2 separate regions of the Homo sapiens genome follow, and region 2 is linked to region 1. Evidence: fine-mapped expression QTL. Tissue or cell type: whole blood. Region 1 holds a variant in brackets; the other region holds the start of a gene. All regions are shown on one strand. Distances are between the middles of the regions. Region 1 has its middle 56 kb from the start of MIR12130. Region 2 holds the start of SEMA6A-AS1 (SEMA6A antisense RNA 1).

Region 1 (2,821 bases):
TAGTTTTATAATTTCAGGTCTTAGATTTATACCTTTATCCGTTTTGATTTTATTTTTATGTATAGTGAGAGATAGGGTCCAGTTTGATTCTTCTGCACCTAGTTATTCAGTTTTCTCAGCATCATTTACTGAAGAGATGTCCTTTTCCTATTTTGTTTTCCAGCTTTGTTCTCTTGCTGAGGATTGTTTTGGCTATTTGAGGTCTCTTGTGGCTCCATACCAATTTTTGGATTCTTTTTTCTGTTTCTGTGAAAAATGTCATTGGTATTTTAATAGGTATTGTATAGAATCTGTAAATGGCTTTGGGTAGTATTGCCATTTCAACAATACTCATTCTTCCAGTCCATGAACATAGGATATCTTTCCTTTTATTTGTCTTCTTCAGTTTCTTTCATTGGAGTTTTACAGTTTTCCTCATATAAATCTTTCACTTCTTTGGTTAAATTGACTTGAAGATATTTTATATTTTTTGTAACTATTGTAAATGGGATTACATTCTTCATTTCTTTTTCAGATTGTTAGCTTTTGGCATATATAAATGCTACTGACTTTTACATGTTGATTTTGTATCCTGCAACTGTACTGAATTTGTTTTTCAGCTCTAACAGTTTTCTAGTGGAGTCTTTAGGTTAATGAATGTACTTCTCTTGTTCTAGTCCTTAGAGGAGAGGCTTTTAATTTTTCCCTGTTTTGTATGATGTTGGCCATGGGTTTGTCACATATGGCCTTTGATATTTGAGGTATGTTTTCTGTACCCATTTTGATGAGGGGTTTTAAATTATTAAATGCTTTTCAAGCATCTATTAAAATAATTTGTCAGAGATGAGTTGGCTGTAGATGAATGGATATATATCTGGGCTCTCTATTCTTTTCCATTGGTCTATGTGTCTGTTTTTATGCCAATACCATGCTGTTTTGGTTACAAAATGTGGTACATTTTGATATCAAGTAGTATGATGTCTCCTTCCAGCTTTGTTGTTCTCTTGCTCAGGATTGTTTTGGCTATTCGAGGTCTCTTGTGGCTCCATACCAATTTTTGGATTTTTATTCTTGATTCTGTTCATGTGATATATCATGTTTCTGCATTTGTGTATGCTGAACCATGCTTGCATCCCTGATATTCATCATACTTGATCATGGCGAATAATCTTTTTAATGTGTTGTTGAATTTGGACAGGCAGTATTTCATTGAGAATTTTTACATCTGTGTTTTTCAGTTATATGGGCATGTAGTGTTCTTTTATCATTGTGTCCTTGTCTGGTTTTCATAGAATGAGTTTGCAAGTATTCCCTTCTCTTCAGTTTTTTTTTTTTTTTTTAAGACTTTAATAGAATTAGTATTGGTTCTTCTTTAAATGTTTGGTAGAATTCAGCAATGAA[G/A]CTGTTAAGTCCTGGGCCTTTCTTTAATAAAGACTTTTTACTATGGCTTTGATCTTATTACTCATTATTGGTTTGCTGAGATTTTACATTCCTTAATGGTTCAGTCTTGGTAGTTTGTATATGTTGAGTAGTATATCCATCTTCTAGGTTTTCCAATTTGTTGGCATGTAGTTGTTCATAACTGTTTCTAATGATTCCATTTCTTTTTTTTTTTTTTTTTTTTTTTTGAGATGGAGTCTTACTCTCCACCCAGGCTGGAGTGCAGTGGCTTGATCTTAGCTCACTGCAGCCTCTGCCTCTTGGGTTCAAGTGATTCTCCTGCCTCAGCCTCCCTCCCAAGTACCTGGGCCTGCAGGGGCCCACCACCACGCCCAGCTAATTTTTTTTTTTTTTAGTAGGGATGGGATTTCAACATGTTGACCAGGCTTGTCTCAAACTCCTGACCTCAGGTGATCCACCCACCTCGACCTCCCAAAGTGCTGAGATTATAGGCATGAGCCACCGTGCCCAGCCTTCTTTCTGTTTCTGAGGCCTCAATTATTATGTCTCCATTTTAGTTTCTGATTTTATTTATTTGTATCTTCTCTCATTTTTTCTTAGTCTGGGTAAAATTTGTCTATTTTGTTTATCTTTTTAAAAATCCATCTTTTTATTTTTTTGATCTTCTGTATTTTTAAATTTCTATTGCATTTATTTCTGCTCTGATCTTCTTTATTTCTTCTACTGATTTTGAATGTGGTTTGTTCTTGCTTTTCTAGTTTCTGAAGATTCATTATTATAATGTTTATTGAAGTATTTCTGCCTTGTTTTTGTTCTTGTTTTTTTGCCCAGAGTGGAGTGCAGTGGCATGATCACAACTCACTGCAGCCTCAACTTCCCAGGCTCAAATGATTCTCCCATCCCAGCCTCCTGAGTAGCTGGGACGACAGGTGTGCCCTACCATGCCCAGCTAATTTTTTATATTTTTTGTAGATATGGGGTTTTGCCATATTGCCCAGGCTGGTCTCAAATTTTTGGGCTCAAGCAATCCACCTGCCTTGTCCTCCCAAAGCACTGGAATTTACAGGCATGAGCCACCGTGCTTGGCCTCTTTCTGCTTTTATGATACAGCCATTTATCACTGTGAACTTCCCTCTTAGGACTGCTTTTGCTGGATCTCACAGATTTTGGTATTTTGTATTTCCATTTTCATGTGTTTTAAGAAACTTTTGATTTTCTTCATAATTTCTTTATTGATCCATTCGTAATTTGGGGGCATTTTGTTTAATTTCCATGTATTCATGTATTCTCCGAGGTTCCTTTTGTTATTGATTTCTAGTTTGATTTCATTATGTTCAGAAAAGATTACTGATATGACCTCTGTTTTTTTAAAAATGTTCTCAGACTTGTTTTATGACCTAAGATATCATCTATTTTGGAGAATGTCCCGTGTTTTAATGAA
Region 2 (2,808 bases), 140 kb after region 1:
CCTTCACCAAACCACGCGGCCCAGTTTTCGTGAGTACCCCTGTGTCCCAGAGAGGAGGACCCAGCGTCCTCGGCTCTGCCGCAGGCCTTCTTGGTCTGGTGGGTACTCGAGGCAGTTGAGAACCTTGCTGAGCTGAGCGGGCACCTCGCCTTGCCTGCTGGTTCGACACCTGACCCCCTCCCCCTGGGATTATGTACACGCATCATTGGGCTTCATGGATGTGGAAAGGGGAGCAAAGGATGGTTTGGGGGGTACGTCCGGCTTTAGCGAGGGCGTACGCTTCAGCCCCGACCTTGTCAGTGAGTTGTAGGCGTTGAGGCTGGGCTGCCTCGAGACAGTCACGGCCTGGCCAGATGGCTGGGAGCTGTGCACCTGGATGGAGTCCACCCTCTGCGGGGCGGGCGGCGGGTTGTCTCCCCTGCCAAAGCTCTGGTTTCTGGAGAGGTGAGAGGAATTGGAGGAGTTAGTGTTGTTTCTTTTGAGAGTGGTGGCCTGGTGGCTTCTCGTGAGCGAGTTCGTGGGGTAGCTCCTCTTATAGTCAACCCCGTAGGAAGAGGAGTGGTGCATTTCCAGCCGCTTGCTTAGACCGGTCTGAGACAGGGAGGCTCCCGGGGGACCCAGGGAGGCCTCCCGCTGTGGAACTTTGGGGGGCAGGCTGTCCAGGTTCTCCACAAGGTTCACCCCATGGTTGGGACTCTTGCTGCTGAGATGTTCCTTGATGGTCTTATACTCCAGTGTGGCGGCCTGGTCCTCCAGCGCCATCTGGGCCACCTCGCTCATTTTGGGCTGGTCCACGTACTCATGCTGGTAGCCCTGCTGCGTGATGGGCAGGACCACCACGCTGGGGATGTGGCTGGGGGAGGCCCGCAGGGGCAGGTCCGTGGGAATCACAGGGGAGCCCATGGGGGGCATGTCCTTTGTGCAGGCATTGATGAGGTTCTGGTTCCTCTCCCACTCGCGGCTGCCGCGGCTGGGCTTCCGCTTCTGCTGCAGCGTTGGGGTTGACTCTGGGGTGGGGAGGGCCGTCAGGTCCAGGTGGTGCTGGTCTGCTTTAATGAGCATCTTGGCCGTGTTGCCGGGAGTGGCGAGCTTGCCGTTGTGCATGAGTGGCGTGAGGATGGCCTCCGGCTTTGGGTCTTTGGATTGAGTGTCCCCAAAGAGGCCGCTGAGCTTGGTGACGCTGCTCATGGAGCCCCGGCGCGAGTGGGTGAGCTCCTTCTCCTTGCGCTGCACCACAGCCACGTCTTTGCGCCGATGATCACAGACGCAGTAGACGGTGATGCCCGAGAAGACGGCCCCCATGACGAAAGCCAGGATGACTGCAATGGCCAAGAGGGTGACGGGAACCAGCTGGTCGTGGCCTTTGAGGTAACTTTCCCGAATCACTCCTGCAATAGACATCGCATATGGCGTTAAGAAATGAAAGCACACCCCGAGGCTTGTTTTTGCTTGGCATTCACCTTGTTAATTAATAACAGTAGTAAGTGACAACAGCACCTCTGCACAACTTGTCTTCCAAGCTCAGCTTGCCAAACATTAACCAATTAATCCTCCCCAAGCCCCTCGTGTGCAGTATGTAAATGGACTCCATTTGTAGCCTTCTTTGTTGTCTAAAAAAGTGCTGTTCAGGCCGGGCACGGTGACTCACGCCTGTAATCCCAGCACTTTGGGAGGCCGAGGCGGGTGGATCACGAGGTCAGGAGTTGAAGACCAGCCTGGCCAAGATGGTGAAACCCCCGTCTCTACTAAAAAAAAAAAAAAAAAAAAAAAAAATTAGCCAGGCGCGGTGGCGGGGGCTTGTGATCCTAGGTACTCCGGAGGCTGAGGTAGAGAATTGTTTGAACCTGGGAGGTGGAGGTTGCAGTGAAGGGAGATCAGGCCACTGTACTCCAGCCTGGGTGACAGAGCGAGACTCCGTTTCAAAAAAAGAAAGAAAGAAAAGTGCTGTTCACTCTTTCCAGTACCTGCACTTTCTACTCTGCTTCACTCCAGGGAATATGGGAGGTTTTGGCTTTCAAAAGTTATCTTTCTTTCCTTCTTTATGGCTTTTTAACCTTCCCTTCCTAGAACTGGGATAACCAAGTTATCCTGAGTCTGGAGGAAGAGGCAACAATTTTATGCATGTTAGACAAACAAATCACACACTCTGGGCTTCCAGTTGGGATCTTTTCCGACGGCCCCCTTGTGGCCACCGGAGCCTCCGTCTGGGGAAAAGTGTTTGCCTTTTAAGCAACTAGAGGAAAGAGAGTGTGTGTCATTTTTATTTACACTGAGAGAATATAGCTAAAGTTCACAGACTACAAATGTTTGTGCTGATTTTGCATCACCTCTCAAAAAAAAAAAAAAAAAAAAACAGTGCAAACTCAATTTCAGGTAACTATCCTGAATATTTGAATGAAGCTTTCTCACTGGAACTGAAAGAAGATTCAGAAATAAGACCATTTGGGGCCCTGTAGTGGGTTTGAGAAGTGTTAGGTACCATTATTGCACCTAGAGTTTGCTGTCACAGTGGGATTTTTCAGCAGAGCTAATCTCTTCAATTTAATAAAAATTATGTGACTACACCCATCCGTAATCTTACACTACATTAACCAGGATTCAGTGTTTCTGAAGGAAGGTGCTTTCGCTATTCCTGCTTAATCAGCCACCCAGCTGAGTGACTCTAATCAAATGCAAACACAGAAGCTTTTATTTTTTAATACCAAGTGAGAATACACATCACAGTTGTCAGATCTTAAGTGCTTGATGCAGTCGCTAAAAAATAAAATCTCTAATACCTCAATTCCTGCCTCTGGAGAGTGAAAGAAC

What was found. PIP is the estimated chance that this variant, and not a neighbour inherited with it, causes the effect.
Region 2: it holds the start of SEMA6A-AS1, and the variant in region 1 is the best candidate, but not a certain one, in a credible set for the expression of SEMA6A-AS1 in whole blood (INTERVAL, PIP 0.56).

The regions. Positions count from the first base shown.
Region 1 is chr5:116,310,320-116,313,140 of GRCh38, forward strand. No RefSeq gene overlaps it. Among named protein-coding and RNA genes, the nearest start is that of MIR12130, 56 kb to the left of the region's middle. The variant G/A (reference allele first, on the strand shown) is at 1,381.
Region 2 is chr5:116,446,424-116,449,231 of GRCh38, forward strand. SEMA6A-AS1 (SEMA6A antisense RNA 1) reads left to right here and starts at 1,075. Exons shown (of 3, transcript NR_109879.1): 1 at 1,075-1,368. SEMA6A (semaphorin 6A) reads right to left here. Exons shown (of 19, transcript NM_020796.5): 19 at 1-1,388. The coding sequence ends at 190.